5 separate regions of the Homo sapiens genome follow, and all the other regions are linked to region 4. The links come from fine-mapping of genetic effects on gene expression. A gene starts in region 4. Each other region holds a variant in brackets. All regions are shown on one strand. Distances are between the middles of the regions.

Region 1 (5,111 bases), 53 kb after region 4:
AGGATCTCAGTGTTAAGCCTTGCAGAAGTCCAGTGAGGTAGGTATCACTGCTCTATTTTCTTTTTTCTTTCTTTCTTTCTTTCTTTTTTTCTTTTTTTTTTTTGAGATGGAGTCTCGCTCTGTAACCCAGGCTGGAGTGCAGTGGTGTGATCTTGGCTCATTGCAACCTCTGCCTCCTGGGTTCAAGCGATTTTCCTGCCTCAGCCTCCCAAGTAGCTGGGATTACAGGCGCCCGCCAGCACACCCAGATAAATTTTGTATTTTTAGTAGAGACAGGGTTTCATGATGTTGGCCAGGTTGGTCTCGAACTCCTGACCTCAGGTGATCCACCTGCCTCAGCCTCCCAAAGTTCTGGGATTACAGGTGTGAGCCACCACGCCCAGCTGGTCTATTTTCATTATGAGGAAACCGAATGTCATAGAGGTTAAGTCCAGTGATTTCAGAATGAGCCACAGGAATCACCCCACTGGAAAAATTGCCCATATCATGGATGACATATTCTCTTGGCAATACATTTTTAAACATAATGCAGTTTACTATAGTTTTAATGAAAAAGACAGTATAGGTATAGAACATTTTAGAAAACATTTGTAAGCATTGAAAACAAATAAAATTTCCCATTATCCCACCACATACAGATCCCAGTGAGTCATATTTTTGGATGCAAGCACCTTAGATCCAGTGGCTTAATTAAATAGGGAAATGATTTTCCTTGCAAGAAGTCCAGAATTAGGTGTTGCGAATATTGCTGGTGTTGCTGGTTCTATGCTTAGTGGTGTTGTAAAGGCTCTAAACTAAGAATCTGGGTTTTCCCCAGTTTTCCATTCCACCATCAACATGTTGACATTTTATTGTATTTTCATGGTTGCAATATGGTTGCCACAGCTCCAGACATCATGACTATGTTCAAGTCAAGAAGAAGAGGGATGGACAGGACCAGAAAGCCCTTCTTTCATGTCTTTGTCTTTAACAGTAAATGAAAGCCCAGAAAACTCTCAGATTTCCCTTTACCTAATTGGTCAGAAGTGTATCATGTGACCACTCATATGGGCAAAAAATTTTGAACCAACAGCTGTTTGGCTTCCTAAAGTCCAGAGTGGGCGCTGTCAATGCTGAGGAGGTTGAGAATGGCTTTTGGGTTTTCCAACTCTGCCTGCCACACTAGGGACAATCGCATTTAACATTTTAGTGTTTATCCTTCTAGTCTTTGTTACTGTATTTTTAATACTTCTGTCCCTGTAGACATGACCCTTGGAATCACGTTTGTATTAATTCTGCTGCAGACTCTGAGGAAATTCTTTTCTCTCTCACAGGGTTAAAGTCCTTTCTTGCTTTCAAATATGCTATGGAGCCACAGTTGAGGACAGTAGTTTCCTGCAGGAGCCTACCCTGAAATCTCTTCTCAGCTTAACATGGAAATGAGGATCCCACCAGCCCCAGAACCCTCTGGGGAAGAATGTTGGGGGCGGTCTTCCTGTGGTTGTATGCACTGATGAGAAATCAGGCGTTTCTGCTCCAAACGACCATTTTATCTTCGTGCTCTGCAACTTCTTCAATTCCAGAGTTTCTGAGAACAGACCCAAATTCAATGGCATGACCAAGAACACCTGGCTACCATTTTGTTTTCTCCTGCCCTTGTTGGTGCATGGTTCTAAGCATGCCCCTCCAGAGCCTATCATACGCCTGATACAGAGAACCTCTCAATAAATGATTTGTCGCCTGTCTGACTGATTTACCCTAGGATAAAGACTCTTTGTGATTTTAAAGAAATGGTCAGTAAAACTGTAATGAGAGTCCCAGGGAACCAAGACGGCACATAGACAGATAAGCTACTTTGGCACAAACACTTAAAAATAGTTGTGTTGGTAAGTAGGGGGATGTTTGATGTAGCAGAATTCTAGCACTCCCTGGAGGGTTGAAGCACTTGGTGACAACAACCTTTGGAAAGTGCTTTGGTTTCCTGAGGTCCTTCAGGTAACCAAGACCTCCCTGTTTTCTAGAAACTTTCTAATGACTTGGCTAGGATTTAGGATTTTCTCTATCACAGTTATCGCTACCTATCCTTAATTTTTTTTTTTTTTTTGACAGAGTCTCGGTCTGTTGCCCAGGCCAGAGTGCAGTGGCATGATCTCGGCTCATTGCAACCTCTGCCTCCCGGGTGCAAGTGATTCTCCTGCCTCAGCCTCCCAAGTAGCTGGACTGCAGGCGTGCACCACCACGCCTGGCTAATTTTTGTATTTTTAGTAGAGACGGAGTTTCAGCATGTTGGCCAGGCTGATCTTGCACTCCTGACCTCAGATGATCCACCCGCCTCACCCTCCCAAAGTGCTGGGATTACAGGCATGAGCCACTGCGCCCGGCCACCATCCTTAAATTCTTGAGCTTGGGAGAGAAGAAGATGAAGGTTTAAATGCAGGTATTTTCACTTCTATGGGCACT[G/C]TAAAACCTCCCAATCCAAAGCGTGGTCCCTGGATCATCAGCATCACCTGAGAGCTTGTTAGAAAAGCAAAGAAGAATCTCAGACCCCACTCCAGACCTCCTAGATCAGGACTTGCATGTTAACATCCCCAGGGGATGAATATAACCATGGGTGTCTGAAAAGCACTATTGTAGAACATTCTTCTGTTTGCCATGCTGACAGCAGAGCTTGTCTTTAAAGCCAGAGAGAAATGTCTTCTTCTTGACTTGGACCCTTTGCATCTTCTCTTAGAATAACTTCCCTGAAAACTCAATTGATGTCTTCTGTCTCTTTGAGTTGCAGTGTAGTCATCCCCTCTGCTAGGAAGCATTCTTTGAATCTCCTACAGTAGAATTTGGCATTATTTTTGTGTGTGCCAAAAAGCTTCATGCTTTCTCACCCTGTATTATGATTTCTCTTTTTGTTGGGTGTCTCCAACATAGACTGTGAGCTTCGTAAGTACAGAGATTTGCATTAAGTAGCGTCTCAACAAATATGTTGAATGAATGAATGAATGAATGATTAGAATGATTACTCTTCATTTTGAAGACAGGGGAACTGAAGCTCAGAGAGGTTAAGTGACTATCCCAGGATCACACAGCCACATAGGTCGTTGAGCTGGGTTTTGAGCTCTTGACCATAAAGCTCCTTCTCCAGATGCCTTGTTCCCCTTTTTCTCTTCCTTTCGTGCCAGGAATACTTAGTTTAGGGTTACAGAGACTAGAATAATATTTACTCTGAGTCACCTAAGCAGTTAGGATTCAATTAGCTCAGTCATATCATGCACTGGACAATTTGTTAACAATATTAAACTCAGTTGATGGAGGCTCTGTCTTTGTTATTCTTGGCAGCCTAACTTGGGAGGTGGGACACATGTTTGTGAACAAGAGTTCATCTATGATAAATTAGTCTTCAACGCTTGGCTTATCCAGAGTGCTCAATACAGAGGTGATAGTTCTTAGAGAGATGGAAGCAAGAGATGGCACTGCTCCTATCCATAGCCAATTGTCATAGGTCAATGGCATCAATGGGCCCAATAATGGTCTCCATTTAGCCACATCCCTTTCCTGTAACTTTGTAACTCTCTCCTTGTCTGACTCTGGGGTTGGACTTGAGATTTGCTGCAGCCAGTGGAAGGTTAGGAAATGTGACTGGAACGTAAGTTTCAAAATCGTATGTGTAATCCTTCTTACCAGTTACACGATTACATTTGCTCACCTTGCTTCCTTACCCCCACCATGTGAACATGCCCAAGCCCGCCTGCTGGAGGGACATGAGAAACACAGAATGAAGGGTAAGTCACCGCAGTTACACTGGTGGAGGTTGTCCTCAGCCAGCCACCATGCCAACTTGCTGCTTTAATCACAGGAGAGAGCCCAGCCAACATCAGCAGACCTGCTCAGCCAACCCATAAACAGACTGAGGAGCAGCAAGAAAGTATCATTTTTCAGACACTGAGTTTCAGGAGTTATTTGTTATGAAGCATTTATTTGTAGCAATTGCTGATGGATACAACAACCAAAGTATGGTCAACATTCTGCATTGGACTGCAACAATTTGGAATGTAAAAAGAAAGAATTTTGATCTCAATTTCTTCTGAGATATCAGGATAATAAATTCTGTACTACTTGAATAAAGTTTTTTCCTGAGAGAAGATTTGCCTAAGGCTTTGTCTGTCTGTACAACGGTGTTACATGTTGGTCTGAAATATAGTCACCTTAAGAAGCTCTATATTTCTAAGGTAAGTGGATAAAGGTGTGACCTCCATGCAGGATTTTTTTCGTACTACACACATCAAGCTATACTTGGTACATTTTTTTTACCCTTGTGGTCTCATATGTCTCCGCTAGAGGGAGAAAGGAGACAATTAAAAAAAAAATGCGGCCCGGCGCGGTGGCTCACGCCTGTAATCCCAGCACTTTGGGAGGCTGAGGCGGGCGGATCACGAGGTCAGGAGATTGAGAACATCCTGGCTCACCCGGTGAAACCCCGACTCTACTAAAAATACAAAAAAATTAGCCGGGCGTGGTGGTGGGCGCCTGTAGTCCCAGCTACTAGGGAGGCTGAGGCAGGAGAATGGCGTGAACCCGGGAGGTGGAGCTTGCAGTGAGCCGAGATCGTGCCACTGCACTCCAGCCTGGGTGACAGAGCGAGACTCCATCTCAAAAAAAAAAAAAAAAAAAATGCATGAGTAGAAGAAATACGTTCTGAAGTTCACTGGTAGAGTAGGGTGACTATTGTTAGCAACACTGTATTGCATATTTCAAAATATCTAGCAGAGAAAACTTGAAATGTTTCCAACAGCTAGAAATGATCAATGATCAAGATGGTGGACACCCCAAATACCCTGTCTTTATCATTGCAAACTCTGCATGCAACAAAATATCACATGTACCCCATAAATATGTACAGATATTATATATGGAAAACCCTAAGTGGCTGCAAATCCCATGAATATAATGTGAAATAACTTTGCTATCTTATAATCCAAATAATTGTGTACAGAAAATTACAGATCCATTCACTCAAAAAATATTTATTGGCCGGGTGCTGTGGCTCACGCCTGTAATCCCAGCACTTTGGGAGGTCGGAGCAGGCTGATCATGAGACCAGGAGATTGAGACCATCCTGGCTAACACGATGAAACCCCGTC
Region 2 (5,129 bases), 260 kb after region 4:
AGGCGTGAGCCACCCGAATATTATTAATAGCAGGACTGAGATTGAGATCTGCTTTGGACCAAGCCCGTACATTTTTAGACCCTTCTTGGCTACAGTTAGTATTGCAAATGGCCACTAGAGGGCAGATCAGGCCACACAGGTGCCTGGGAAAAAATAAATAAATAAACACTCTGCTAAAGGAAGAAAATCTCTCCAAGTGGTCCCAACTTGCCTCTTTAGTCTCACCTCCTGTTCCTCCCAAAAGCCACGACAGGTAAACATCTCCTTGCCTTTCTCCCAAGTTCTCCAAGCTTTTTCTCTCTCCCAGGACCATACTGCTTCATTCTCTTAAGACTCAAGTTGAAAAGAAACGTCCCTGGCCAGGGGCGGTGGCTCACGCCTGTAATTCCAGCACTTTGGGAGGCCGAGGCGGGCGGATCGCCTGAGGTCGGGAGATCGAGACCAGCCTGACCAACATGGAGAAACCCTGTCTCTACTAAAAGTACAAAAATTAGCCGGGCGTGGTGGCGCATGCCTGTAATCCCAGCTACTCAGGAGGCTGAGGCAGGAGAATTGCTTGAACCCGGGAGGTGGAGGTTGTGGAGAGCCGAGATCGCACCACTGCACTCTAGCCTGGGCAACAAGAGTGAAATTCCATCCAAAAAAAAAAGAAGAAGGAAAGAAGGAAGGGAGGGAGGGACGGACGGAGGGAGAGAGGGAGGGAATAAAGAAAAGAAAAGAAAGAAGGAAAGAAAGAAAGAAGGAAAAAAAGAAAGAAGGAAGGAAGGAAGGAAGGAAGGAAGGAAGGAAGGAAGGAAGGAAGGAAGAGATCCCTGACTCTCCTCCGTGGAATTCAGTGAGCGACACGGTGTTCTTTTGTTCATACCCTGTCGCCCTTTCATGAAAATATTCTGTTTCCAGATCAACCTCCATTCATGGTGTAGGAGCTGCTGGGTCGGGGCACCCAGCCGCGGGGAGCTCAGACTCCGGGGACCCCCACCCACCTCTGCAAATGCACGCGGGAGGTGCAGAGATGTTTAGTGAGCAAACAGTGGCTGCAAACAGAAGGCAGGGAGGGGGTACCCAGGAAGCACTCCCATGATTCTATGTTTTAGCAAGAGTGTGTTAGTGAAGGTTTCTCCCCACATTCATGCCCAGATTTCATTTCAGAGTGAAGGCATTGGATTTCTGAATTGGTGAAGCATCTGCTCTCCAGCACAGCTGCCCGCCGCATGCAAAAAGCCACAGAAACCCCTGGGTTCTCCGAGGCATCTGCCTGGCACGCCGCCGGCCCTGCGCGGAGCAGGCACCAGGGGTCGCACAGGTGAGTCATACCTAGGGTCCTCGGCACCAGTGCCTGAAGAGGTTTTTCTGTGGAAACAAAACCAACGCCTTTGAGGACAGAGGGAACTTCATTAGACAGACCACTGGGCTCTGACACTTGGAGGCCACATGTGTCCGAGTAAGGGCACCCTGGCTTTGACCCTGGACCACTCGCTCCCATCACTTGCTAGACGGAGTGAGCTACATCTTCCCCAGCAGGTGCAGGGGTCCAGCAAGGGAAGGGGAAGAAATCAGAGAAAATTCTCCCCAGAGACGGCCTGCTGAGGTGGCCCTGGGATGTCAAACGTGACTACATGTGGACATCACAACTGACTCAGCCACTTCTCCAAGTCTGGCAGAATTTTTCTTTTCTTTCCCTTCTTTCTTCTTTCTCTCTCTCTTTCTGGTTTCTTTCCTCTTTCTCCTTTTCTTTTCTCTTTCTCTTTTCTCTCTCCCTCTCTCTCCTTCCTTCCTTCTTTCCTCTTTTACTTTCTTTCTCTCTTTTTCCCTCTTTCCTTCCTTCATTTGCTTTCTTTCTCTTTCCTTCCTTCTTTTTTTCATTTTCTTTCTCTTTCTTTTCTTTCTTTTCCTTTTTTCCTTCCTTCCTTCCCTCCTCTCTCCCTCCCTTGCCCCCTTCCTTTCTCTGTCCTTTCTTTCTCTCTTTCCTTTCTTTCTTT[C/CTCTT]TCTTTCTTTCTTTCTTTCTTTCTTTCTTTCTTTCTTTCTTTCTTTCTTTTTCTTTCTCTCTTCCTTCCTTCCTCTTTCCCTCCCTCCCTCCATTCCTTTCTTTCTTTCTTTTTTTCCCTTCCTTCCTTTTTGAGACAGGGTCTTGCTCTGTTGCCCAGGCTGGAGTGCAATGGTGCCATCATAGCTCACAGCAGCCTCCAACTCCTGTGCTCCAGCAATTCTCCCGCCTCAGCCTCCGGAGTAGCTGGGACTACAAGGCATGCACCAACATGTCTGGCTATTTTTTTTTTTTTTTTCCTTTTTTAGTAGAGATAGGGTCTCACTCTGTTGCTCAGGCTGGTCTCCACCTTTGGCCTCAACTGATTCTCCCACTTCGGCCTCCCAAAGTGCTGGGATTACACGAGTGAGCCACTGTGCCTAGCCAACATTTTGTTTGTAACAGGTGAAACAGTAACCACTTTGAAGCCTTGGCTGTCCCCCTGAACATTCTTTTGGACTCAGGGTCATAGGGGAAACATGCAACAAAAAAAGAAAAAGAAAAGAAAAAAAAAAAAGAGGATTCTTACACACTGGTGGTTCTGGGAGAAAAGTCTGCTCGGATGAATAGCATTGGTAAACATCTGAACAGATACTTTTAATTTTTTTTTAGAGACAGGGTCTCACTCTGTCACCCAGGCTGGAGCGCAGTGGCGCCATCATCGCTTATCGTAGCCTCCATCTCCTGGCCTCTTGTGATCCTTCTTTCTCAGCCTCCCCATGGGCTAGGAGTTCAGACATGCATTACCATGCCTGACTAATTTTTAAACTGTTTTTTTTTTTTTTTGGTAGCGATGGGGTCTCATTATGTTGCCCAGGCTGGCCTCAAGCAACCCTACCACCTCGGCTTCCCAACTAGCTGGGACCACAGGCTTACACCACTGCGCTCAGCTAAAGCCTCAATAATCACGGCCAGGCACGGTGGCTCACACCTATAATCCCAGCACTCTGGGAGGCCGAGGCAGGCAGATCACCTGAGGTCAGGGGTTAGAGACCAGCCTAGCCAACATGGCAAAACCCCGTCTCTACTAAAAATATAAAAATTAGCTGGGCGTGGTGCTGCGCACCTGTAGTCCCAGCTACTTGGGAGGCTGAGGCACAAGAATCACTCGAACCCGGAAAGGGTGAGCTGAAATCGCACCACCGCACTCCAGCCTGGACGATAGAGTGAGACTCTGTCAAAAAAAAAAAAAAAAGAGAGAGAGAGAAAAAAAAAAATGTTAATCGTCTAACGGAGTTTGTTTTGGAACTCACGTGGAGACCAGCTCAGGAGAGGTAAGAAAGGCAAATGCTGAGTTTTGTCCATTTTTCCCCTTTTGTGCGATTATTTGCTCTTCCTGATAAAATTCCCCTCGAAATTTCGAAACTGCAAGATCTCTTCCTCCACCCAGGAAAGGGCTCCATTCAGACTCCACCCACCCTTCTGCCGTCTCTGGGTCCCACTACCTCTCGGTCCCTAAGTAATGACCTTCCACCAACACCAAGCCAATTGGCACCCACTAAGAGAGCCCAGCGCCAAGTCCTGACCTGGGGACGAAAACCACGTTGTGCAGGTAATCCTCAAACGTCTTCCTAAACGAGGACTCCTCCAGCTCCTTCAGGATCTGAGAGTCTGTCTTTGGACAGGAGCAGCATTCGCCGGCCGAATCCTCATACTCACTCTGGTTGTGCTTCTGAGAATCTTCAGACTCGAATGGTGGAGACCAGGTCCTCGAGGGCAGCTTCAGCCCTGGAGAAAGAAACAGAAAAGGGGGGCTCAAGTCTCTGCGGCTGAACACACATACACACACACACACACCCCACACACACACACACCACACACACACACCACACACACACACACCACACACCCCCCCACACACACACACCACACACATCACACAACACACCACACATACACACACCACAAACACACAACCACACACACACACCACACACCACACACACCACACAACACACCACACATACACACACCACAAACACACAACCACACACACACCACACACACCACACACCACACACACGCACCACACACACACCATACACGCACCACACACACACTACATGCACACCTCACACACCACACCACACACCGCACACACACCACACAAATCACACACACACCACACACACCCACGCCACACACCACAGACCACACACCACACACCCCACACACACCATACACGCACCACACACACACCACATACACACTTCACACACACCACACACCACACAAATCACACACACCACCACACCCACGCCACACACCACACACACACCACACACGCACCACACACACACACAGTGAAGGGGGCCTTCTCAGAGAGGCTGAGCTGAGACAGAGCCTAGATTTGAGCTCCGCTTTGGAAAAAAGCCAGACACTATGGTTCACGCCTGTGGTCCCAGCTACTTGGGAGGCTCAGGTGAGAGGATCGCTTGAGCCCAGGAGTTCGAGGCTGCAGTGAGCTATGATTGCACCCCTACACTTCAGCCTGGGTGACAGAGTAGAACCCTGTCTCAAAAGATTAAAAATATAGCCGAGCACAGTGGCTCACACCCTTAATCCTGGCACTTTCGGAGGCCGAGGTGTGAGGATCACGTGAGCCCAGGAGTTCAAGACCAGCCTGGGCAATGTGGTGAAACCCTGTCTCTACTAAAAATAAAGTAAAATAACCAATAAAAATAGGCCAGGCAGCTCACACCTGTAATCCCAGCACTTTGGGAGGCTGAGGTAGGCAGACCACCTGAGGTCAGGAGTTCGAGACCAGCCTGGCCAACATGGTGAAACCCCGTCTTTACTAAAAATACAAAAATTAGCCAGGTGTAGTGGCGCATGCCTGTAATCCCAGCTACTCAGGAGGTCGAGGCAGGAGAATCGCTTGAACCTGGGAGGTGGAGGTTGCAGTGAGCTGAGATGGCACCACTGCACTCCAGCCTGGGTGACAGAGCGAGACTCCGTCTCAAAAAAATAATAAATAAATAAATAAAATATCTGTATCTAGAGTGTCATCTGAGAAGTGCATGTCAACATGTTTTATTAGTTTAGTGCATAAGTAATTGCAGCTTTTGCTATTAAAAGTAATGGCAAAAAACCACAATTACTTTTTTTTTTT
Region 3 (5,000 bases), 41 kb after region 4:
CGAGGAGTCTCTCTCTTCCTTTCTTCCTTTCGATTTCTCTCTGGGGTGGAGGATTCTGATGCGCATGCTTCTCCCCTCCAGATGGGCTGCGCCATCATCGCGGGCTTCCTGCACTACCTTTTCCTTGCCTGCTTCTTCTGGATGCTGGTGGAGGCTGTGATACTGTTCTTGATGGTCAGAAACCTGAAGGTGGTGAATTACTTCAGCTCTCGCAACATCAAGATGCTGCACATCTGTGCCTTTGGTTATGGGCTGCCGATGCTGGTGGTGGTGATCTCTGCCAGTGTGCAGCCACAGGGCTATGGAATGCATAATCGGTGAGTGACATCCTCTCTCTTCCTGAAGACCCTGCTGCCAGGGCTTATGGTGATAATGACATGAGCAACAAGAAGAGTAACAACAGTAGCAGTAGTTGTGGCTACCATTTATCGAGCTCTTCTATTATGTACTATTGGTTTCAGGACCACCATGTACAGCAGCATGGGTTGTGCACTGCACAAATCCAGGATCACTACTATTTGAGGTTTATGTTCCAGGAAGAGAACATCTGGTTTACCTAACTTGATTATTTTCCTTTTCTTGCGTGTATGACATGGGGGGTGGTGGGGGTGAAAGTGGGAAAGGAATACTTCTGCATGGTGGTGTGCACCTGTAATCCCAGCTACTCGGGAGGCCGAAGCAGAAGAATCACCTGAACCCGGGAGGCGGAGGCTGCAGTGAGATGAGATGGCATCATTGCACTCCAGCCTGGGGGACAAGAGCGAGACTTCATCTCAGAAAAAAGTGGGGGGAATATTGGGGTGCTGTTATTGAACATGACGGAATGGTTGTTGTGTTGTAAAAGCAGCTAATGTACACTAGAGACATAATAAAAGGAGCCAATCCTTTCTTCCTCCCTCCCACTCTCCCTCCCTCCCTCCTCCCTTCTTCCTCCCTCCCCTCTTCCCTCCCTCCTTCCTTCCTCCCTCCCTCCCTCCCTTCCTTCCTTGCCTTCCTTCCCTTCCCTCCCTCCCTCTCTTCCTCCCTTCCTCCCTCCCTTCTTTCCTTCTTTCCTTCCTTTCTTCGAATAAACAATTTTATGAAATATCTTGTCTATGCTAGGCTGTGCTCTGAGTGCTGAGTATTCAGAGATGAACAAACACCTAAGGCCCAAATTCTCATGAAACTCATAGTCTAGTAGTGGAAGACAGTTTGCAGTTACACAAGCAATTAAACAAGGTAACTTACGATAGTGATAGCTGCTGTTTTAAAAATGCAGTGAGCTCTGCTAGATGGATACCAGGAGCAGAGACAGGTTGCCCTATCTAAGGATAGTCAGGAGTGGCTTCTCAGAGGAGGTGACATTTGAGCTGAGATTTATTTATTTATTTATTTATTTGTTATTTATTTATCTTGAGACAGAGTTTTGCTCTTGTCACCCAGGCTGGAGTGCGGTGGCGTGATCTCAGCTCACTGCAACCTCCACCTCCTGGGTTCAAGCGATTCTCCTATCTCAGCCTCCCAAGTAGCTGGGATTACAGGCGTGAGACCCCACGCCCGGCCTGAGCTGAGATTTGAATGATAAGGTGTACCAGTGGAGAGTTCTGCATAGAGGGAAACAGGATTACAAAGTTGTGAATTGGGAAATGAGCTCAACCTTGGGCACTAGGTAAACATTTCAGGTACATTTGCCCAGGAAGAAGGTCTAAAAGAGGAAGCGCAGTGATCTAAAGGAAACTGAACTGCAACCGGGACCATCCTGAGCATCATCTGAGTCTCACCTCCCAGTGTTCTCCTCCACTAGGGCATTTGTTGGGACAGGGTTAACTGTAAGGTCAGGACTCTGAGACAAGCGCTGACTCCTCCTATTTCTCTCCACAGCTGCTGGCTGAATACAGAGACAGGGTTCATCTGGAGTTTCTTGGGGCCAGTTTGCACAGTTATAGTGGTAAGCAAATACTACAACAGCCTGGCGAAGTGTGTTCTGAAGGAGGAGCAAGGAGACCTGCGAGATCTGGAATTTCCAGGGACGTGTGCAGCTGAGAGGGTCACTTATTCCCATCAAAAGTTCTCCTTTCCAGGCCGGGCGTGGTGGCTCACGCCTGTAATCCCAGCACTTTGGGAGGCTGAGGCGGGTGGATCACCTGAGGTCAGGAGTTCGAGAACAGTCTGGCCAACTTGGCGAAACCCCATCTCTGCTAAAAATACAAAAAATTAGCTGGGTGTGGTGGCGAGCACTTGTAATCCCAGCTACTTAGGAGGCTGAGGCAGGAGAATCGCTTGAATCCAGGAGACATGGAGGTTGCAGTGAGCCAAATTCATGCCACTGTACTCCAGCCTGGGCAACAGAGTGAAACTCCGTCTCAAAAAAAAAAAAATAAATAAATAAGTTATCGGCCAGGTTGCGGTGGCTCATGCCTGTTATCCCAGCACTTTGAGAGGCCCAGGATCACTTGAGGTCAGGAGTTCAAGACCAGCCTGACCAACATGGAGAAACCCCATCTCTACTAAAAATACAAAATTAGCTGGGTGTGTTGGCACATGCCTGTAATCCCAGCTACTCAGGAGGCTGAGGCAGGAGAGGAGAATTGCTTGAACCAGGGAGGCAGAGGTTGCGGTGAGCCGAGATTGCGCCATTGCACTCCAGCCTAGGCAACAAGAGCAAAACTCCATCTCAAAAAAAAAAAAAAAAAGTTCTCCCTTCCAATCCTTCATTCTTGAGATTTCGAAGTTACAGAGTAATTTCTTTGACTTGGGAATTTTGTTTTTCCTTCTGAAAGGCAAATACCCCTGGGAGGGACCATAATTGTATCCGTCTTGTGCAC[A/C]GGTCCATGAGTCTCTCTGAAGCAGTGTCATTGTCTGGGGGTAATAATGCCTGAGGTTCGTTGCCTCATGCTAAGGAAATCAAGGACACAGACACACACAAGGAGTGAGTTTAAGAGCAGAGGTTTAATAGGCAAAAGAAAGAGAAAGGAGACTAGCTCTCTGTGTCTTGCAAGAGAGAGGGCCTCCTGAGTGGGACTTCTGGCCCGCAGCAAAGTGCAACAGATTTTAGACTGGCTTGAGGGGGCGGTGTCTGATTTACATAGGGCCCAAAGATTGGTTGGACCCAGTGTGACATTTACGTAGAGCGCGAGGAAGCTGGCCACCCACCCTGATCTTTTATTATGCAAATGGGGTCTTTACTTGGCTGGCACCATGTTGTCTTCTCCTTACTGTCTACATGGTTTACAAAGAAAAGGGAAGACGGAGCTGCCATTTTTTTTTTCTTTTTTTTTAGACGGAGTCTCACTCTGTCACCCACGCTGGAGTGCAGTGGTGCAATCTCGGCTCACTGCAACCTCTGCCTCCTGGGTTCAAGCAATTATTCTGCCTCAGCCTCCCGAATAGCTGGGATTACAGGCACGCACCACCACACCCGGCAATTTTGTATTTTTAATAGAGATGGGTTTTCACCACGTTGGCCAAGCTGGTCTCAAACTCCTGACCTCACGTAGTTTGCCTGCCTCGGCCTCCCCAAGTGCTGGGATTACAGGCATATGCCACTATGACCAGCTAATTTTTGTACTTTTAGTAGAGATGGGGTTTCACCACGTTGACCAGGCTCCTAACCTCAGTTAATCCACCTGCCTCAGCCTCCCAAAGTGCTGGGATTTCAAGCGTGAGTCTCTGCGCCCAGCCAGAGCTGCCATTTTGAACATGCCTATTCCCCAGGTAACCGCTTTCCTATTGGCACAACTGCCAGCATTCACCCATGCAAGCTTCTAGCTTGCCTTTCTATGTCTATAGCTCGATTCTACCGGCTGCTCTCCATTAGAAAAGAAAATGATTTGGGAGCTGCTTTTCATTAAAAGGAAAACCTTACCGAGGACTTCCTTACCCTCACTATCTGCCTAAATAAATCTTTTTTAAATCCTATGTCATCTCCTAGGCACAGATGTTGAATGAAAGAAAAAGTAAAAAGAAATTAGGAGGAATTGTGGGGGAAGGAGTGAGATGACAGAGGGAAATGGTGGATCGAGGCAAAGGGAGGCCAGGGAATGTTAAACACCCATCTCTTTGCCTCCCAACCTCCATCCAGACTTGACAGCCCTGCCAGATGATGATTCTTCTGACTCTCACTCATGGTGGCTCATTCCCTTATGTCTTTTGTCATATTTTTCGAGGATTAAATTTTTTTTTATTTTTAATTTTTGTGGGCACAAAGTAAGTGTATATATTTATGGGGTATATGAAATATTTTCATACAGGCACAGAATACATAATAATCACATCAGAGTCAACGAGGTATCTGTCCCCTCAAGCATTTGTCCTTTGTGTTACACACAATCCAATTATGTTCTTCTGGTTTTTGTTTTGTTTTATTGTTTGGTTTATTTTTATTTTTATTTTGAGACAGAGTCTTGCTCTGTCACCCAGGCTGCAGTGCAATGGCATGATCTCAGCTCATTGCAGTCTCTGCCTCCTGGGTTCAAGCGATTCTCCTGCCTCAGCCTCCCGAGTAGCTGGGATTACAGGTGTGCGCCACCACGCCCAGCTAATTTTTTGTATTTTTAGTAGAGACGGGATTTCGCCATGTTTTCCAGGCTGGTCTCGAATTCATGACCTCAGGTGACCCACCCGCCTCGACCTCCCAAAGTGCTGGGATTACAGGCATGAGCCACTGTGTCCAGCCTCTCCTGGTTATTTTTAAATCTACAATGCAATTATTATTAACTATAGTCACCCTGTTTTGCTAACAAATACTAGATCTTATTCATTCTTTCTATTTTTTTGTACCCATTAACCATCCCCTCTTCCCTGTTCCCCACCCACCCCTTCACTATCCTTCCCAGCTTCTGGTAACTGCTGTTCTACTCTCTAGCTCCATGAGTTCACCTGTTTTAAATGTTTAGCTCCCACAAAGAACTGAGAACATGTGAAATGTGTCTTTCTGTGCCTAGTTTCATTTGTAATGTTTACTTGACTGATCTAAGTCTTGGGAATGCTTGAAATTATATTCCTCCACAGAGGTTTTGTGC
Region 4 (5,128 bases):
GAACAGGCAACATGGTCCTGGCCAGGTAGAGACCCCATCTGCATAATAAAATATTAGGGTGGGCAGCCAGCTTCTTTGTACTCTATGTAAACGGCACACCTGGTCCAACTAATCTTTGGGCCCTTATGTAAATCAGATATCACCACCTAAAGCTCATCTATAAAACCCCGTGCATTTCACCATGAAACTGGAAGACCCACTTGGGAGCCCCCTCTCTTTGCAGGAGAGAGAGCTTTTCTCTTTCTCTCGCCTATTAAATTTCTTTTCTTTCTTTCTTTTTTTTTTTTTTTTTGAGATGGAGTCTTGCTCTGTCACCCAGGCTGGAGTTCAATGGCACAATCTCGGCTCACTGCAACCTCTGCTTCCCGGGTTCAAGCGATTCTCTTGCCTCAGCCTCCTGAGTAGCTGGAATTACAGGCATGAGCCACCACACCTGGCTAATTTTTGTATTTTTAGTAGAGATGGGGTTTCACTATGTTGCCCAGGCTGGTCTCAAACTCCTGATCTTAGGTGATCCACCCGTCTCAGCCTCCCAAAGTGCTGGGATTACAGGCATGAGCCACTGTGCTCGGCCTAAACCTCTGCTCTAAAAGTAATTTTTTGTGTGTCTGCATTTTATTTTATTTTATTTTATTTTATTTTATTTTATTTTATTTTATTTTATTTTAAGACAGAGTCCCACTCTGTTGCCTAGGCTGGAGTGCAGTGGCACGATCTCGGCTCACTGCAGCCTCCGCCTCCTGGGTTCAAGCAATTCTCTGCCTCAGCCTCCGGAGTAGCTGGGATTACAGGTGCCTAACACCATACCACACTGGCTGATTTTTTGTATTTTTAGTAAAGACGGGGTTTCCCCATCTTGGCCAGGCTGGTCTTGAACTCCTGACCTCGTAATCCACCCTCCTCAGTCTCCCAAAGTGCTGAGATTACAGGTGTGAGCCACGGTGCCCGGCCATGTCTGTATTTTCTATTTCCTTGGTGTGAGGCAATGAACCTCGGGTATTACCCCAGATGGATGACACTGCTTCAATATCTGCCAGTCACTACACTTTGTTATCAGTGGGATTACATCAACTGGAGCCCATTCTATCTGCTTGGAGGCCAGGCCTGAAGATTCAAGGGGTTGACACCCTCTAGGAGCAAGCCTCAAGTCAACCCATGACTGACAGTAGGTGGGATATAAATACCTCAGCTCCCTCACCCCTCGGTTGGAATAACTGAAGAGTATGTTCCATGCCGCTCCCCAGTCATCCCTGGGGAGGTTAAGTTCCACTTTCTCACCATGTAACTTATTTGAAGACACACCCAGTATTGGCTCTTTGCCTTTCCTGATTCACTTTCTCCTCCCCCAGCTGGTGCTTTCTGGGGCCACCTTCTTGATAAACTACTTTTGCTAGAATCCTTGTCTGAGGGTCTGCCCTTGTGAGACCCTAAGATGTTACCAGAGAGAGTTAGGAAGCTGGGAATGGGGTGGAAGTGTTGCTGTATAATCGTCAGACAGAGTTGAGATCTGAAGGAAAATAAGATGGTTAAAGCTCTTGACTCTGGAATCAGAGGGTCCTGGGTTCAAATCTCAAGTCTGAGAGATCTTGGACAAGTTATAACTCCTCTGCAAGTCTCAGTTTCCATTTTGTTGGTGAATAGAGGGAGGGAGGGGAATTCCTACTTTACAAGGTTAACATGATAATGAAATTACACTTTGTTGCCAATGTGCCTAGCACACTGCCTGGTACATGATGGTTGTGATGGCTGTCTTTATACGGGAGACTGGGAAGAGACCCTAAAGGCTGAGATTTGCTTCACTGGAGGCAGGAAGCGGAAGCTCCTTTATTGGGTGCAATGAAAGAAGGTGTTGAGAGATGGGAGATAGATGTTGATGGGAAAGAAAAAGGGAGAGACCATGGGAAGGAGAGAGAGAGAGAATGATATACATTAGGCAGATTAACTTCTCTTTATTGTGAAGAAAGGGGGAAATTAGGATTTTCTAGGCTGTCTTTTAGTTGCAGCAAGTCAGCAAAAAGGGCTATGATGACCAGGCAGCATTGAGCAACTCTGACTCCGCCTTCCCCTCTTCGCACACCTTCTGGTTACTGAAAACCCAGCGTTAGTAGAAAAGTTTCTTTTCTTTGAATGACAGAACTACAGCATAATGCGTGGCTTCAACCTGCTCCTCTTCTGGGGTGAGTGTGAGGCTGAATGGGGGGCTAGGGGAGGCCTGGATTGGAAATAGACTTCAGGAGAAATGGGAGGGCCATGGATGGTCCAGCCAAGAGATCATAAGTCCAGACTGGATGCTGCAAACACCTTCATTCAGGGAACCTTTGACAAAATTCCATAGCTCAGGGAAGTCCATCTGTTAGGATAGATTTTTCTCTATAGTCATTCATTTGACCTGAGCAAGTCCTGTGTGTCAGGTGCTGTTCTAGGCACTAGAGGATATAGCAGTGAGAAAAAAAGACTAAGTTCCTGCACTCTTGAGGCTGATATTCTAGTGGGTAGGAGCAGACAGGAAAGAAGGCACAGATGATCATAGCCCACTTAGCACTGCTGTAACTTCTTTAAACATAGAGTGTATCCAATTGTCACAACATTTCTATGACATTGGGTCATTATTAGTCCTATTTTGCAAATGAGAAAACTGAGGCAAAAGAGATAAAATAATTTTCCCAAGGCCACTTAGTCAATAAGGGGTAGAGGCAGGATTTCAAGCCAGACAGTCTGACTTCAGAGTCTGTAAGCTTTTCCACTATACTATGTTGCCCCAAAAAATAAGTAAACATAGGAATTTCAGGTAGTGATAAGTGCTATGAAAGAAGTTGTTATAGAATGTGGTCGGGAGTTATGTTGAAGGGAGAAGTCTGGGGTTGAGGAGGGGCAGTTCGAGCTGAGTCCTGAAGGATGAGATAGACCCTTCCTGTGCTCTTATTTCTCTTTCTTCAGGTGTCAGTTTGTCTCAGCCTTGTTTATCTTCTGTGTTTCTGGTTTTTCTTCTATGTCTTGTGTGTTTTGGTCATTGGATCAAATTTAAGAATGGAGGATATTGGGGACATATTCTAAGTAGCAAGTATGGGTTTCCTCTGCTGTTGAAGAGTGGATCTGAATACCCTATTTTACCAAGGAGGAAACTGAGGCACAAAGAGATTAAATAACTTCCTCAAGGCCACGCAATCATTAATTGGTGAAGCCAGATTTTTAAACCTAAGCACTTTGACTTCAGACTTTGTATGCCTAAACAGCATGCTGAATTACCTCTAAAATAATTAATGAATGAGTAGAAGAATTTTTGTTAGTAATAATAGATAGAATTTGGGAGTTTAGATCTGTGGGACTTGTTGACTGGCAGGCTACATTAGAAGAAATAGGTGGCCTGTGGACATCAAATGTAGGCATGCAGAGTTGTTATTTTGGGGTGTTGGCAATGGTATTAACCATTAACACTCCCTATTCTGCCCTGAAGATAATCAGCAAAGAGTTGTGATAATGATAGTGATGATAATGATCATGATGGTGGTGGTTATAATAGTGATGATGAAAATGGTGATGATGATGGTGATGGTGATGATGATGATGATGATAATGGTGATGATAGTGATAATGAAGATGATGGTGATGATGATGGTGTGATAATGACCATGAAGATGGTGATGATGGTGATGATGATAATGGTGATGATAGGGATAATGATGATGATGGTGGTGATGATGGTGTGATAATGACGATGAAGATGGTGATGTTGGTGATTATGGTGGTGATGATGATGATGGTGGTGATGGTGATAATGGTGATGGTGATGATGATAATGGTGATGATGGTGATAATAATGATGATGATGATGGTGATGATGAAGATGATGATGGTGATGATGATAGTGATAATGATGGCGATAATGATGATGGTGCAGGAGACCTAAATGCTGCAGGGCTGCATTGCCTTTAAACACTAAAAAATGGGCAGGGCGCAGTGGCTCACGCTTGTAATCCCAGCACTTTAGGAGGCTGAGGCAGGCAGATCATGAGGTCAGGAGATCGAGACCATCCTGGCCAACATGGAGAAACCCCGTTTCTACTAAAAATGCAAAAATTAGCTGGGCGTGGTGGTGCGTGCTTGTAATCCCAGCTACTCGGGAGGCTGAGGCAGGAGAATAGCTTGAACCAGGGAGTTGGTGGTTGCAGTGAGCCTAGATCACGCTACTGCACTCCAGCCTGGTGACAGAGTGAGACTCCATCTCAAAAAAAAAAAAAAAAAAAAAAAGGAAAGAAAAACGAATTGCCCTACCCTCTCATGAAATGTTAATACTACAGATATACTGTATACCTATATATGTATTTTCTATATATACATATGTATCTTATACATAAAAGAGTAAGCTTAAAAAGATCTCTTCCTGAGAACCAAGTTTGGGTCCTTAGAGGATATATCACCCCTTTTGAGAATGCATGCTTTAATGTATGTTTTTGAAAATCAGCTAGAACTTTTTTTTTTAGACAGGGTCACCTAGGCTGGAGCGCAGTGGCATGATCTTGGCTCACTGCAGTCTCTATCTCCTGGGCTCAAGCAATCCTTCCACCTCAGCCTCCTGAGTAGCTGGGGCTACAAGTTGTCACCACCACCCAGCTAATTTAAAAAATTTTTTTTTTGTAGAGACAAAGTCTCACTGTGTTGTCCAGGCCGGTGTCAAACTGCTGGTCTCAAGTGATCCTCCCACCTTGGCCTCCCGAAGGGCTGGGATTATAGGTGTGCACCACAGTGCTTAGCCTGGAACTATTTAATCAAAAAGAAAAAGAAGATAAAGACAGACAAAATGAAAAGCAAAAGCAAAGTACAGAAAACCAGGAATGGTCATTGTTAAGCTTATGCAAAATAGTGTATGTTTGTTCCTTAACTAGGTTTGTCATCTAGCCTCTTCAAACCTATTTCTGTGGGGCCAAGCCAGGAGTAATTTTGCAGGTTGAGCCCAAAAGGTTTTTTTTTTTTTTTTTTTTTTTGGTGGTTCATGGTGTTTTTCTTTTCTTTCTTCACAGGATGTTGTGTTATGCACAGCTGGGAAGGGCACATAAGACCCACACGGAAACCAAACACAAAGGGTAAGTTGGCCAGAGAGAATGCAGATGCCTGAAGGGGTAGAGAAAGT
Region 5 (5,129 bases), 27 kb before region 4:
CCATGTTGGCCAGGCTGGTCTGGAACTCCTGACCTCAGGTGATCCACCCGCCTCGGCCTCCCAAAGTGCTGGGATTACAGGCGTGAGCCACCTCACCTGGCCATTTTTTATTTAATAGTCTTTATTAATTATTAAAATTGCAGTAAAATATACATTACATGAAATTTATTTTCTTAAGCTTTTTTTTTTTCTTTTTTTTTTGAGACGGTGTCTTGCTCTGTCACCCAGGCTGGAGTGCAGTGGTGCGGTCTCAGCTCACTGCAAGCTCTGCCTCCTGGGTTCACGCCATTCTCCTGCTTCAGCCTCCCGAGTAGCTGGGACTACAGGCGCCTGCCACCACACCCGGCTAATTTTTTGTATTTTTAGTAGAGACGGGGTTTTGCCTTGTTAGCCAGGATGGTCTCGATCTCCTGACCTCGTGATGCACCCGCCTCGGCCTCCCAAAGTGCTGGGATTACAGGTATGAGCCACCACGCCTGGCATTTTTTTTTTTTTTTTTTTTGAGATGGTGTCTTGCTCTGTCACCCAGGCTGGAGTACAGTGGCGCAATCTCGGCTCACTGAAACCTCCGCCTCCTGGGTTCAAGTGATTCTCCTACCTCAGCCTCCCAAGTAGCTGGGATTACAGGCACCCGCCACCACACCCGGCTCATTTTTGTAGTTTTAGTAGAAACGGGGTTTCCCCATGTTGGCCAAGATGGTCTCGATCTTCTGACCTTGTGATCGACCAGCCTCGGCCTCCCAAAGTGCTGGGATTATAGGCGTGAGCCACTGCGCCCAGCCCTTAGACTTTTAATGCTCATAAACTAAGATTCAGGATCTCCAAGGAAGATTTTGAAGTTCAAAAGCCAGGGAGGCTGAGGGCAGAGGATTGCTTCAGGCCAGGAGCTCGAGACCAGCCTGCACAAAATAGTAAGATCTTCCTCTCTACAAAAAAAAAAAATAAATAAAAAAATAAAAAAAATAAAAAAATTAGCTCTGCATGGTGGCACACAACTGTAGTCCCAGCTACTCAGGAGGCTGAGGTGGGAGGATTGCTTGAGCCCAGGAGGTGGAGGCTGTGGTGAACTATGATTGCACCACTGCACTCCAGCCTAGGCAACAGAGTGAGACCTCATCTCTAAAAACCAACCAGGCCAGTCACAGTGGCTCACGCCTATAATCCCAGCACTTTGGGAGGCCGAGGCGGGCAGATCACTTGAGGTCAGGAGTTTGAGACCAGCCTGGCCAACATGGTGAAATCTCATCTCTACTAAAAATACAAAAATTAGCCGGGCGTGGTGGCAGGTACCTGTAATCCCAGCTACTTGGGAGGCTGAGATAAGAGAATCACTTGAACCTGGGAGGGGGACGTTGCAGTGAGATGAGACTGCACCGCTGCACTCCAGCCTGGGTGACAGAGCAAAACTCCATCTCAAACAAAAACAAAAACAAAGAACAAAAAACAAAACAAAGCAAAGAAACAACCAAGTAACCAACTGACCAACAAAAGCCAGGGAGTTGCTTTTTGGGTAAATCTGCAGGCTGCTAGCATAACCCTTAGGAGGCAAAAAGATGGGCTGGCCTAAGCTGACAGGGCTGGGGAAGGATCATGGGCTATAAATTAATTTGGGAAAAAGTAGTTCATACTTCCAAATATATTACCCTACCATACTACTAACAGAGGCACCTCCCGTGTCAAGTATTCAGTGTTGTCTGGCGCCATGAAAGTAAGCACTTCCTACACAGTATCTAGATTAATCTCACAGCCAGCTTCGTGGTATTTTATCTTATTTTATTATTTATTAATTTATTTTTGAGATGGAGTCTAGCTCTGTCGCCAGGCTGCAGTGCAGTGGTGCAATCTTGGCTCACTGCAACCTCCACCTCCCAAGTTCAAGCGATTCTCCTGCCTCAGCCTCCCGAGTAGCTGGGATTACAGACACACGCCGCCACACCCAGCTAACAGTTGTATTTTTAGTAGAGACACAGGGGTTTCGCCATGTTGGCCAGGATGGTCTCGATCTTCTGACCTCGTGATCTGCCCACCTCAGCCTCCCAGAGTGCTGGGATTACAGGCGTGAGCCAACTGCAACCGGCCGGGTTTCTTTTTGTTGTTGTTGTTTTTTTTGTTTTTGAGACGGAGCCTTGCTCTGTCGCCCAGGCTGGAGGGCAGTGGCGCGATCTCGGCTCACTGCAAGCTCCGCCTCCCGGGTTCACGCCATTCTCCTGCCTCAGCCTCTCGAGTAGCTGGGACTACAGGTGCCCGCCACCACGCCCGGCTAATTTTTTGCATTTTTAGTAGAGATGGGGTTTCATCGTGTTAGTCAGGATGGTCTTGATCTCCTCGCCTTGTGATCCGCCCGCCTCGGCCTCCCAAAGTGCTGGGATTACAGACGTGAGCCACTGGGCCTGGCCAGTTTTTATTTTTATATGAAATAGAGCATAGTGGTCAGGGCTCCAAGAGATTCTAAGGTCCTCTGTGCCCCTGTGAAATTAGCTATAAAGTTTTGGGAAAGACTTCGCCTCTCTGAACCAGAGAAAGATAAAATCAGCTCGCCACAGGCAGAGAGTCGGTATGCACCTAAGCACAGAACCACG[C/T]TCTTAACCGTCACTCTAGTGCCGGGTGGGGATCTTGGTATATCCTAGCTCTCTCTGCAACCCCAGGTAAGCCAACGCCTAGATGGTACCTGCACACACCTGGCCAGGTGCAGGATATAGCCTCTGAAGCCTGGAGTGAAGTGTTTTTCATGTTTGAGGAACCATGAATCTAGAAATGGGTGTTGGAGGAAGCAATGCAGTCACAAGGGATCAGGAACTAGGACGGGGGGTTTCTGCCCCTCCCGTGACTCCCCCAGAGTCACACCATGAACCTACCTATGGCCTAAGGTGGCTACCTGGGCTGTCTAGTTCAGGGTGTTGGTGAGGTTGAGGTCATGGACTTGTTCTTGGAGTTCCTGGGTGGCCCTCACCTTCAGCCCCAGGCTGTGTGAATGACTCAGGCGCAGACCTGCCTGAAAAGCACGTATAATCCAGTAGGGGACTTAACAATCAACCAGGCAATTATAACACAGAGTTGATGAATTTCATAAGGAACACAGGTGGCTGTGGGAGCAAATACAGATCTAACCCAGGCTTGAGTAGGGGAGGATGGTCAGGGAGGGCTTCCTGGAGGAGGAAACATCTAAGGTGGCAACTGTATAATCAGCTGGATGGAGTCACCTAGAAAATAAATGAGGGGACAGCCTAGCACGGTGGTCCATGTCTGTAATCCCGGCACTTGGGGAGGCCGAGGCGGCGGATCACTTGAGGTCAGGAGTTCGAGACCAGACTGGGCAACATGGTGAAACCCCCATCTCTACTAAAAATACAAAAATTAGCCGGTGTGGTGGCAGGTGCCTGTAATCCCAGCTACTCGGGAGGCTGAGGTAGGAGAATCACTTGAACCTGGGAGGCAGAGATTGCAGTGAGCTGAGATTGCACCACTGCACCCCAGCCTGGACGACAGAGTGAGACTCAATAATAATAATAATAAATAATGAAGGGAAAGTTTTTTAGGGAGAGGGGCAAATGATAGTGATCCTGGTAGGTTCTGGAAACTTCAAGGGGCTCATTTTGCTTGGAGAGGGAGGAAAGTGGGGGTGGGGTGGGTGAAAAGTTGTTGGGAGACCGGGCGTGGTGGCTCATGCCTATAATCCTAGCACTTTGGGAGGCCGAGGCAGGTGGATCACTTGAGCTCAGGAGTTCGAAACCAGCCTGGCCAACATGGTGAATGTACAACGGACAGCCCCCAATACAGACAGACAGACACACACACACACACACACACACACTCACTCACTCCTACCCCCAGCCCTAAGAATTTACAAACACTGATAAAGACAAATGAAATCAGCGGATATAGACTTCAAACGCCGTCAGACAGACACCCACTAGATCAAACAGGGACATTCCTAAACATCACACAGACACATCGCCAGGCAGTCCCACCGCAGACAGCCACAAATTAAAGCCGCGCTTGCCCCCTGATGGACAGCAGCAGTAGTGCGCCACCTCGATAGCGCAATCTCCCAGAGCGCTGGCATTGCAGGCGTGAGCCAACGTCCGCAGCCAAACACGTTCATATTGTTGAGAAGGCAGAGAAATACAAAGTAGGTGGAAGGGTCTCCACCTACAGCTGTTTTCTGTGGTCTGAGGATTCTTCCCACGTCTTTAATTTCTAGTGCTTTCTAGGGGTCTCAACTTGAACTATTTAATATTTTCTGGAAGAGAAACATTTTTTGTGGGGGGGGCGGGTGGGGGTGGGACCGAGTCTCGCTCTTGTCTCCCAGGCTGGAGCACAGTGGCGCGATCTTGGCTCACTGCAACCTCCGCCTCCCAGGTTCAAGCGATTTTCCTGCCTCAGCCTCCCGAGTAGCTGAGATTACAGCGCCCAGCTAATTTTTGTATTTTTAGTAGAGATGGGGTTTCACCATGTTGGCCAGGCTGGTCTCGAACTCCTAACCTCAGGTGATTCGCCCGCGTCGGCTTCCCAAAGTGCTGGGATTACAGGCGTGAGCCACCGCGCCCGGCCCAGAGGAACTTTTTTTTTTTTTTTCCAGAGGAACATTTTTTATCCAAAGGAATGACTCCCTAATGGTGGAATTCCAGGCAATGAAGTGAGGCGCGAGGCAGATTGTCACATAGGGAGCTGTCATATTTCATGGGTACCATTCACGCAAGGCGGGACTTGTTCTTAGGCAGCCAACACTTCCGCATTGTCCTGGCATTTGAGCCGCGGAACCAAGTTCCGCGTATCTTGCCCATTGTAACCCCACAGCACCAATTTGAAGCTATGTAGTGCCCTCTGGTGGCCTTCGGTGATTTGGCTTCAGTGTCTCAAACTCTCTGATTAGACTGTTTCCAAAGAGAAGGCTGTTAGGGGGCCTCAGAAGTCAGGTTTGGATGTTTGAGCTCTAAGCTGCAGGATTTGGGGAGCCGTGGTGTGGGGGTGATTTATTTATTTATTTTTGAGAAAGAGTCTCACTCTGTCGCCCAGGCTGGAGGGCAATGGTGTGATCTTGGCTCACTGCAACCTCCACCTCCCAGGTTCAAGTGATTCTCCTCCCTCAGCCTCCCGAGTAGCTGGGACTACAAGAGCCCGACACCACG

The links.
Region 1: its variant is fine-mapped to the expression of ADGRE1 in whole blood (INTERVAL, PIP 0.94).
Region 2: its variant is fine-mapped to the expression of ADGRE1 in CD4 T cells (Kasela 2017, PIP 0.95).
Region 3: its variant is fine-mapped to the expression of ADGRE1 in whole blood (TOPMed, PIP above 0.99).
Region 5: its variant is fine-mapped to the expression of ADGRE1 in testis (GTEx, PIP above 0.99).

What each region holds. Positions count from the first base shown.
Region 1 is chr19:6,938,711-6,943,821 of GRCh38, forward strand. It overlaps ADGRE1 (adhesion G protein-coupled receptor E1), which reads left to right. Exons shown (of 21, transcript NM_001974.5): 21 at 1,314-1,740. The coding sequence ends at 1,319. Among named protein-coding and RNA genes, the nearest start is that of ADGRE1, 54 kb to the left of the region's middle. The variant G/C (reference allele first, on the strand shown) is at 2,440.
Region 2 is chr19:7,149,183-7,154,311 of GRCh38, forward strand. INSR (insulin receptor) reads right to left here. Exons shown (of 22, transcript NM_000208.4): 10 at 3,544-3,745; 11 at 1,315-1,350. Among named protein-coding and RNA genes, the nearest start is that of ZNF557, 82 kb to the left of the region's middle. The variant C/CTCTT (reference allele first, on the strand shown) is at 1,980.
Region 3 is chr19:6,926,285-6,931,284 of GRCh38, forward strand. It overlaps ADGRE1 (adhesion G protein-coupled receptor E1), which reads left to right. Exons shown (of 21, transcript NM_001974.5): 16 at 82-317; 17 at 1,861-1,927. The region is part of intron 1 of LOC105372256 (a long non-coding RNA gene); the gene reads right to left. Among named protein-coding and RNA genes, the nearest start is that of ADGRE1, 41 kb to the left of the region's middle. RefSeq lists an enhancer at 1-240. The variant A/C (reference allele first, on the strand shown) is at 2,805.
Region 4 is chr19:6,885,463-6,890,590 of GRCh38, forward strand. It overlaps ADGRE1 (adhesion G protein-coupled receptor E1), which reads left to right and starts at 2,117. Exons shown (of 21, transcript NM_001974.5): 1 at 2,117-2,177; 2 at 5,019-5,081. The coding sequence starts at 2,147. RefSeq lists an enhancer at 2,111-2,170.
Region 5 is chr19:6,858,932-6,864,060 of GRCh38, forward strand. No RefSeq gene overlaps it. Among named protein-coding and RNA genes, the nearest start is that of ADGRE1, 26 kb to the right of the region's middle. RefSeq lists an enhancer at 4,073-4,212. The variant C/T (reference allele first, on the strand shown) is at 2,580.